2 linked regions of the Homo sapiens genome follow. The protein of the gene in region 2 purifies or fractionates together with the protein of the main gene of each other region. This does not show direct contact. Each region holds a gene or a part of one and is shown on either strand. Other genes may lie near its edges.

Evidence for each region. The genes of interacting proteins can lie anywhere in the genome.
Region 1: the proteins of SAMD9 (region 2) and METTL13 fractionate together in Homo sapiens (co-fractionation; one large-scale study listed by BioGRID). This does not show direct contact.

What each region holds. Positions count from the first base shown.
Region 1 is NC_000001.11:171,786,904-171,792,222, forward strand, and holds part of METTL13 (eEF1A lysine and N-terminal methyltransferase), read left to right. Parts: intron 1-831; coding exon 832-1,027; intron 1,028-3,548; coding exon 3,549-3,713; intron 3,714-5,113; coding exon 5,114-5,319. UniProt on the Homo sapiens protein: Dual methyltransferase that catalyzes methylation of elongation factor 1-alpha (EEF1A1 and EEF1A2) at two different positions, and is therefore involved in the regulation of mRNA translation.
Region 2 is NC_000007.14:93,100,070-93,105,388, forward strand, and holds part of SAMD9 (sterile alpha motif domain-containing protein 9), read right to left. Parts: coding exon 1,259-5,319; 3' UTR 1-1,258.

The sequences.
Region 1 (5,319 bases), on a different chromosome or scaffold from region 2:
GTGGGAAAGCAAAGGTATCTAGAGGCTTGGTGCAAATAGTAACAGATCTGAAAAAAAAGAACCCAGGCTCCTGGGTTCCTGGCCTGTGGTTTTGCCCACTAGGCTGACTCGTGTTTACAGATGAATGTAAGTTTGATTCTTCCTGGCCAACTTTGGGGTTGATGACCCCTATTTCAAGGAAGCCCAGATCCTCTGAGGAGCTTCATTTGTGGCCTCTCACCAGTGCCTGAGTCTGCAGGGTCAGGAGATATTGGTGATTATTAACTAGTCTTATAGGTCTTTAAAAAAAGAAATAAAGATAGGGGGAAGGAGTGGGAAAGTTTAGGGGGAAAGTATATTTTTCTCCTAAGGTTCAGAAAAGTGGGGGAAAAATAGATGAGAATAATCAGGGGAAAGGAATATCTCTCTAGATTTGGAGTGGTTGTTTCTCCCATGGATTTTGTTATCTTTATTCTTGTGTAGATTCCTTCTCATAATCACAGCCCCTTCCTGAGGGTTCCCTCTAGCTTTTGTTATCCTGGACTATTGAGAGTTCTTTTAGGGGTTACTGATGAGAAAAACCCCTAAAAGAACTTGGGGAGAATCAGCTGCATCTCACTAGTTGTTTGGGAGATCTTTATGTGTCCAGTTGATTTTCAAAAGATGAATTAAACCTTTGAGATCAGTTCAAAGGCTCCAGAAAAGTACTTTAATAGAATGGCAAATCTGTGGAGTAGTTGTTGTCTAGAACCGTGGTATGGGGATATATACACACAAAAGGGAAGGGGTTATAATTTCTCTTATTTCTTAAATGAGCTGCTGTTTTGACCACATCTCTGGTTGTACCTTCAGGTCCCCTTTCTGTCTGTGGGTGGGGACATTGGGGTCCGGACCGTTCAGCACCAAGACTGCAGCCCCTTGAGCGGTGACTATGTCATTGAGGATGTGCAAGGGGATGACAAGCGATACTTCCGTCGACTGATCTTCCTCAGCAACAGGAATGTGGTGCAGTCCGAAGCCAGGTTGCTGAAGGATGTGTCTCACAAAGGTGAGGTGTCATAGGCACAGTGGTGGGACCCAAGTGGCCGTGGCATGGACTAGATTTCTTGGGAGCTTGGCCGAGATGTAGGATGGACCTGGGTGTCTGTAGGTTCTTAACCATCTGGACTCTTAGGGTGTGAATAGCTATAAGCAGAGTACATTCTGTTCTTGAGCAGAGCCTGGCTCTGAAGTGATAGGGGACGTGAGTAGTGAAACCAAATACAGTGATAATCACATTAATGTCTTCGGTTTAAAGGCATCTGTTTTGCAGGTGCTCCATATACATCTGTGTATTGTTTCAATAGGCCTCTGTGAGGTGAGCCAGAACTATGGAAGTTGCAGGTGAGCCCTGCCCTCCATAGTGTGACTCACCTGTTTCAGAGGGTTTTGGATTGGCGGGTGACTTAGAGGCCTTCTAGTATACCACTGTTCAGTAAAACTGCCTGTGATGAAGGAGATGTTTAGTTCCTGAGTTTCTAATGTGGTCGCGACTAGCCATATGTAGTGCTGAGCGTTTGGAATGTGGCTAGTGTAACTGAGGAACTGAATTTTAATTTTCTTTAATTCTAATTAATTTACATTTATATTTCAACAGCCATAGGGGGCTAGTGGCTAGTATTGGACAGTGTAGATCTAAACCATCTCTTCTAGGATCCCTTTAAGTGGTCTCCCAGCTGTCACTCAGAAACTCCCCCGATGGGGAATCAATAGTTTGTTTTACCTGTGTTAGTTTGTATTTTAAAAGTGATACTTGTTCATTGAAATCACTTCAAAAGTCAAATATAGACCGCGAAAAGTGAATGCCCCTCACCTCTCCGTCTCCAGTGCATCTTCCCTGTCTGAGGCGCAGAGATTCAAGGATGGAAGCTGAAATGGCTCTCCTGATTCCCAGTTGTTCCCTTTGCCTGACTGGCCTGCCCTCATAGCAAGGCCATCTGGGAGGAGGGTGGAGACAGAGAATTCAGATGCTTGAGGTCATAGACTGGCTCTGAGCCTAGAATCAAGTTACCCAGCGAAATGGTATTTTTCTTTAGGGGTTTTCCCTGGCCAAGAGCACCCAAGATTGTTGGGTTTCTGCCCTATTGTTTGGTCACTGTGGCTGCAGGTTGGTCCAGTTTCATCTCACTAAAATCTCAGTAAAATTGCTTAAAAGAACATTTTGCCCCTTTCAGTTTGGGTTTCAGGTTTTTTCACCATTGTCATGTTCCTTGATTTCTTGGTAGCACTTTGTTCTCATGGAAAGAACGTTCTCCCTCATGGGAGTATTGGTGAGCAAGAAGGAGAGCATATTAAAAAGTGATTTAATATATCTGAAAAGCACCCCGACTCCACTCATCAGCACTTTTTACTGCTGGGGAATGCAGCTGATCCCTATGAAGACACAGCCATCCGTTTAGTATGATACCCTGGAGCAGGGAAGGGAGTGGTGAGAGGGAAAGTGGAGTGGCTTTTTAGGATTTATTTCCTTTTTTGAATACTTGTGATTTCCTTCTTCAGCAAAGGTTGGTAGTGCTACCTGTGTGGCATAGCAGAAAGATGATAGGTGATGGAGACAGGCAGTCCGAGGATCAACTCCTATCTCTACCATCTGCTGATTCCCTATTTACTTAACACTTCAGTGGCTTAGTGTGTTCATGTGCCAAGAATTGGAATGATAAGGTTGTTAGAAGAGCTAAAAAAATAAAAGTTACGGTATAGTAATTGGCACATAGCAGGTGATTAGTAACTTTACCTTTCTTTAAAAGACTTTATGAGTAATCTTTTCTCCTGTTAGTGGCCTTACATTTCTTAGACGGGAGGTACCAGGGCTCCTCAGTTGAGTTTTCCCAGGTTTTTGAGTGTGCATTTGCCATTTCCTTTTCCAGCTTCCTTGTATCCATTGTATATGTTAAATGTTTAATGACTATGTCTTTGTGGGGCGGGGTAGGGGGGGCACATCCTAATTTATAGTGTTTATCAGTTCTCTAGTATAAATACCACCACTGTATTTGTTTGTTTTACGTTGCTTATAAAGGAATACCTGAGACTGGATAATTTGTAAAGAAAAGACTTTTATTTTGGCTTATGGTTCTGCAGACTGTACAAGAAGCATGGTACCAACTTCTGCATTTGGTGAGGCTTCAGGAAGCTTACAATTATCACAGAAGGTGAAGGGAGACCAGGTACATCACATAGCAAGAGAGGGAGCAAAAGAGATGCCAGGCTTTTTTCAACAACAGCTCTAGAGTGAGAACTCACTCAATACCATGGGGAAGGCACCCAGCCATTCATGAGGGATCTGCCCCCGTGACCAGCATGGTGGCTCCGACATTGGGGATCACATTTCAACGTGAGATTTGTAGGGGACAAACATCCAGATGATTTCACTACGGCCAGTTTCAAGCTATCAACATGATGTCAACCAGTTTGCAAAATTTTAACGATTGGGTCTTTTGAGTGTTCAAGCCATCTGGAGCACACTGCTGCCAGTAACCCTTGCTTCCTGAGGACTAGTGTACTAAGCATAGGGCTTCATATCTCTTGTTTAGCCCAGAAGAAGCGGAAAAAGGACAGGAAGAAGCAGCGGCCTGCTGATGCGGAGGACCTCCCTGCAGCCCCGGGGCAGTCCATTGATAAGAGTTACCTGTGTTGTGAACACCACAAAGCCATGATCGCTGGCCTTGCCCTGCTGAGAAACCCAGAGCTACTCCTAGGTGAGAGAGATGCCACTGCCTTCCACAGAAGGGAGCATAAAGATTACAGACCTAAACAATTGGTGTCACTTGCATTGTAGTTGAAGAACAGCAATTACAAGCTGACAATGTATCTTTCTTCATCTCAACCATGTTATAAGTTAATGAGCATTCTAATTAACTGTTGCCTCAAACTCAACCTGTTATATTGAAATTGTATTGAAATATGTTAGAGTCTAAGTGGTATTTTTTCTGTTCATTTCTTTTTAAAATTAAGGTATATCATGTATTCAATGAGATATGTAAAAATACACAGATTTTAATTGTTCAGCTTTTCTGTAATGCATTATTTGAACAAAAGATGCAATTCTATCTTGAATTTCTACTTTCTGAAAAGATTCATATTATAGTTAATGCAGTCATAGCCTTATCGCTAATAGCAGGTTTGGATCTGACTGCATTAGTGAAATTGTTCATGTTTTGTCTGTGATTGTAACCGTTTTCACCTGAAGTCCCTGAATGTGCCTTCTTGGAATACCCTATACTTTTGTCCTATCTTAGTGTTGATGTATGTCACTAGAATCTCAGTTCTTAGATTTAATTCTCAGGGTCTGTCTCCTTCGGGTGACTTTTGTTGTCTTCCTTTGATCCCCCTGTGGTGGCTGTGCTCTGTGCTTAGGAGTAGGAGTTGGGCCTTTGTTTTCCTGTGATTTGTGGAACTTGAATGGCTTACCCTTACTTGGTGAGGGTGTCTGAGAAGACGGTGTGGCCTTTTGAGTCAAGGGCAAGGGACATTGCACCTCTGCTGCCTTGTAATCATGAGCAAGATTGTTTGGCCACTCTTCTTCCCTTTCCTAGAGAGGGTCTAATAATTCTTATAGTGAAGAAGTCTTTTTTTTTGAGACAGGGATTTACTCTTGCCCAGGCTGGAGTGCAGTGGTATGATCGCAGCTTACTGCAGCCTTGACCTCCTTAGGCTCCCACGTCAGCTTACCGTGTAGCTGGTACCACAGGTGTGTGTCACCATGCCCAGTTAATTTTTCTACTTTCTATAGACAGGATTTTGCCATGTTGCCCAGGCTGGTCTCGAACTCCTGAGCTCAAGTAATCTGCCCACCTCGGCCTCCCAAAGTGCTGGGATTACAGGTGTGAGCCACTGCCCCTGGCCACTTTGAGATCTTTAAGAGACAATAATAATAACACACTAGTTCATCTTCTGGATCTAGTCATCATGAATCCAGGATTCAGTTATCAGATGTCAAATTCACTCCTAGATTTCTGAAATGAGACAGGGAGACCTCTAAATCTTGTATCCCCTGAATGGAGACAGTGAGCTGACTTTCCCTTTTGCCTTCCCTGAGGCTGGTACAGAATTTTCCAGTGAACAGGTGGCAATGTGATGCTCTATTCTTTTCTTACAGAGATCCCACTGGCATTGTTGGTGGTAGGCCTGGGCGGGGGCAGCCTCCCCCTCTTTGTCCACGATCATTTTCCAAAGTCCTGCATTGATGCTGTGGAGATCGATCCCTCCATGTTGGAAGTGGCCACCCAGTGGTTTGGCTTCTCCCAGAGTGACCGAATGAAGGTCCACATTGCAGATGGCCTGGACTATATCGCCAGCTTGGCA
Region 2 (5,319 bases):
CTTATAATGTATAGATTCCCCAACATTTTTTTGGTCCTTTGCAATTTCTTTCTTTTTTGGTTGAAGAAACCAAAAAAGAAAACCAGGTTTTTGTCCTGTGAATTTCCCCTTTCTGGATATTGCTGATTGCATATTTGTGGTGGTGTTAGTAGGATTTTTTTAAAATTTCTTTTGAATTGCAAATAAGATCCAGAGACCTGATCAAATTCAGGTTTAATTATTTGGCAAGACCATGTCACGGGTGATGTGTGCACTCCTATAGTACTTCCAGGCCCATAATGTCTGGTCTTCCTCTGTGATGTTAATATTTATCAGGATTTGGGACAGTTTGATAAATCCATTAGAAATTTTTGTTTTTTAATCAGCTTTCCACTTAATGGTTTTGGCAGCCATTGATGACTGCCCATATCCATAATTTTATTAGGGGAAAATTACATTTTGATTACGTATCGCTGGTTGTTTTTGTTCAAAACATAGGTTGTATGTTAATCTGCCAGTACATTGGCATCTTCTGGATGAGGGACTCATTAGTCTTCTCACAAGAGTCCCTTTTGTTCATTAGCTTGTGGAATTTGAGTGTCTGTATGTTTTTTTTTTAATTGTTTGTTTGGAGGGGAGTTGATAAGCTAATTAGCTATAGAGACAAATTTCATTTTTGCTTAACTGAATCTCACTGCATGAAAAGGCAATCTAATTCTCCAACCTACTTTGGTAAGGTCTGATGACTTCTGTGGGCATGACCTTCAGAAGACTGGTTGGTCCTCTGTTTTGGAAGATCCTTGAGTGCCAAGCACATGATACATTGATGATCTGCTTAGTAAGAATAAATGTTGCTCCTCAGTTTGAGAGGTTTTTGCTGTCTTTGAGAAATATTTTCCCAGACATTCTAATGTCTAAATGCCATTTGAGTAGACAATCTTCTTCAATCCATGCCTGGTAAGTAGTGGGGTTCTGTGTAGCCAGCTTATTACACTAACTTCTCCTGACTCCAGTCATAGCTCCTTATTATTTTGTCATCAATGATGTTAACCAAACCAAGGAACATATTTGCTACTTTTCATATATCTCACTCCTTCCTTTTTCACTATTGTCTTTGTAGAACTCATAACATGTTTAAGAGGAAATTAAATACTGCATGTACAGATCTGAAGAGCTAGAGGCTGTATCTATAACCTTGCCGGTTTAAAGCATAGATCTTGAGTCCAAAAAAATTAAATGGGTACTGAGATCAAATTCTTGGAGGAAGAATATCAGGCTCTTAAACAATTTCAATGTCATAAGCAAGTGGGCCTCCAATGGAAAATCCCAGGTAAAAAGACACCTTCTCTATGCTTCTGCCACTTCTAAGTTGACCTAAAAAAGCGGGAGTGATGGGTATTGTGATTTTTTCATTGATTCCATATTCTATATATAAACAATTGTTTTCAGCTCGACCTTGTAAACGAAGCAAAAGTTCTTGGACTTTTTCCTCCTTCCACACATCTCCACTCTGCCACAAGGAATTAATATCTGGTGTCTTCTTAAAGCACTGGTCAATTTTTCCTTTGTGAACAAGTCTTTCCAGTCTTTTACCTTTTCCAAGAAAGAAATATGCAATTGGTTGCTTTGTACGATGCATATGTTTATATTGCCCCTTGAAAGAATTTTTTAGTGCTTGAGCATACTCTTTCATTTGTTCAGAATGTTGATCTAGTTGTTGATTTTCTGGCCAGAATAAGAGGGAAGCTAGAAAATACGGTTCTGAAAACTGATAAGTCAGTCCTATTGGTTGCAAGACTTCTCGAAGCTGATCTTTTAGTTTTTCAACTGGCTTTACTAATCTGGAGGTAGGTTGGATACAGGAGAGAATAATGTTGGCCAAGATGAAATTTAGCTTTTCTTTTGACTGGATTTTGACAGTGCATTGTTCTAAGAGAAAAGTATATTCGTTCACTATACATTTCATAGTGCTTATAGCATCCTCTTGACTTTTGATAAGATATTCCAAGAGCCCAGAAAACTTGTCTGCTTTTAAAGCTACTAGGTTTCTCCTGCATCTCTCTACTTGAAGTGGCTCACTGAACTTTGATCCAAGACCTGTGTTGTTTTGTGATTCTTCTAAGAGACAAAATATATCTACATATTTCTTAAAATATCCAGCCACCTTTCTCCGAGTTTTGGCCTCTTCATTTTGCTTAATATTGTTCCTGGGTTTTAGCAGGACAAAGTATTCATCAAAAAAATCAAAGGACTTTTTCAAAGAAAATTTCAATTTAGTTAAATAAGGAATATAGTTTTTGAGGGCTAATTTATATTCATTGTTTGGATCCCCTGGAATATCACTACTTCCTGATACAAAATTGACCATATATCTTTTAGATAGCTCATTTTTATTATCAAAAAAAGGAATGAGCTGGAGAATTTGGATTGTGTAAAGCCCAACTTCTATCTCTCCTTGATAACCAGCTATATTGTAAGTATCATACCGCCTTTTTGACTTCGGATACAATCTTTCCTTCACTTCATACTCTCTATCTTCACTTTGCTGTTGAGATTCTTTGAATGCACTTGAGGCATGTTCTGCTAAATCCAAAAGAGCAATTAGATCATCAACTGAAATGTTCCCGTTTCCTCCGTTTTCCTCTATCCACCATCTTATTTTACTTTTGTAGACTTGACCCAGTGTATCTGAGATATAAGAATTGTCAGGTTCTATGATTTTTGCTTGTTTTGCCCAGTTTAGAGCATTGCCAAAGTCCTTCTTTTTAATGTAGAAATGTCTTGCCAACGCTTGGCAAATGAATGCATTTGGGTTGAACCGATGGATACTTTCAAGCAATACAGCTTCAACTGCTTCATTTCCTTCATCTTTATGTAATGCTTCAATAAATGGGGAAAACCAATTTCCTGTTTCACCTTCATGTTCATCGCGGTGTCTTGTGAGTAGGAGTGTGTGCATATCTTGCAAAAATTTACTTTTTCCCATACCAGTATCGAAGAACAAATTCTCAGTTAGCATATCCAACATAATTTGACTTTTATTCAGGTGATAGCTTTTCTTCAATTCTTCCAGTGAGAACTCTGCAATCAAAGAGTGAATGATGCGTACTCCACAGTAGTTCCCACATTCGATGACCTCTGTTTTTATCAGAATTGTAGAGTAGGTGCCCATCTTGTCTTCAAATTTTTCTGTCCCCCAGAAAGCCTTCTTGTTTCCAATTCCTAAGAATTTTTCACACTGTGATAGTGAAATGGTGGTATCAGGCACATATGAATTAAGAAGAGCCAGAAAAGAAAAGAGCTTTGCTTCCTTGGTGAAAATATTCTGCCCTTTCAGGATATTCCGGACCACATTTTCTATGTATTCTTTATTAAAATTGGTTTTCATGATCATAAAGGAATAAAAATCCTCAAAGTTTTTATGCTGTTCTTTGATTTCTTTCAATTTAAGCTCAAAAGCTCTCTGTTCTTTGGGAGAGAGTTGCTGTATTACGGCAATACTGTCTGGGATCCTTGCACTTTTTTCAGGATTTTGTGATCTCATACAATTTAGGATAATCACCAGAGGTTTTTCATATCGAATGTACTTTTTAGCTATAGCTGTTTGAATAGAGTACTGCAGAAGATAGACATTATCTTGTTCTTCAAAATCATCAACAAGGAGTAGTACAGGTACGTATTCCTGACGGTTCATTGCCCCATAGGTGATTAAACTGGTTACCTGTTCTCCAATTTCAGAAAAATCCACTGTCTTGTTTTTCAGCACAGCACATCTGAATTTCTTCCTTAGTTCCCAGAGAATGTGCATAGCCAAGGTAGTTCCCCCACAGCCTGGATGATGATACAGATGAATAATTTTGGTACTTGTTGGTTTAGAAGAATCTGCACAGTTTTGAATCATTGCTTCAAGTCTTTCATATTTATCCCTTTTGACAAAAGGTGAAGAATAACTTTCAGAAGAGAAGTAGAAGTTCCACCATGACACTTTGCCACCTCGATAGAAGTCTTCCTCTTTTGATGCCTTGAATTCAAGGAATTTATTTTTGTCCTTCTCTAACAGTGTACCCTCACATTCATTTTCACAGATAATTTCCAGAGCAGTCATGATATCTTCTTCCTTTTTCAGAAGGACAGTCGATAAACCAATAGATGGCAAAAGCCTTTTTGAAGATTGAGTCACAGATTTTAGTTTAAGAATAGTGCCATTGATCTCTTCAAGGCTTAAAGCAGAAATACATTGGCTTGAAATTTCATCTTGGTGTTTTATTAATCTTGCTTCAAGTAGATCTTTCCATCCCTGAAATATGTGTGGGTGCACACAAATACACAGTATATTTTCCATTCCTTTGAGATCCTGGTAGAAAGCACAGAAAGTCTCAATGAGGGGATCTCTTGGGTCATCCACAGAGGACAGTAATAGAAATACCACCAAAAACTTCCCTCTTGGCATTATGTCTTCATGTGTAAGAAATGAAATCAGTTTCCTGACATCAGAAGCTCTTTCTCTTTGCCAGGAACTTGGATCAAAGGGTTTATATTTTTCACTGTCAAGGTCTAACCTGCCATTGCAGAAAATCCAGCTGGGTTGATGGTAAAGATTTAGAGTAGAAATCGTCTCATTTGGTGTGGTTTTCTGTTCTACATATACACTTGGAAAGTGAAGGTTTGCTACTCGGCTTTCTTTGTAAGCTTTGACCACTCCATTGATGTTAGACTCAGGATCAAACTCCAATACAGCAAACCATTTAATTTCCTTCAGGAAATCTAAGTGTTTTGTTTGATCTGGGTGGCATTTATTTGTTACAAGAATGTACTGTTCATAGTATGAATTATCTAACAAATCTTGATTTCCTGTCAATAATTTAACCAACTTTGGTCCCTCTCTTTCTTTTTTATTTGTTTTTGCTCTGAATTTTTCTTCTGCTGCTTTTCTGGACTCTGCCAGTGTTTTAAAATCTGCTTTAAATGCTCTGAAATCAACTTTATTTTTCGTAATGTCCTTAGAGCTGGTCCCATCTCGCACAAATAGTGAGAATTTTTTACTTTGTTCCCATATTTTGTTGTTGTAATTTTGCATTTTAATCTGGAAATAATCATATTGGCATTCAGAGAACTGTGGAATAATGTCCACTTCAATAACAAATCTGTCAGATAGAGTACTATTTGGCAGTAAAACTTCCACAAATCTTGGCTCTCGAATGCACTTCTTTGCTTGTTGGACTTGATGGTCTTCAAAATACTTGTTTATCATCAGATTGAAATGGTTAATGAGGGCTTCCTTGGTATCATTGGTGACTTTGATGCCAACAATTTTCCCATGGGGTTTGTCTTTGACTCCAA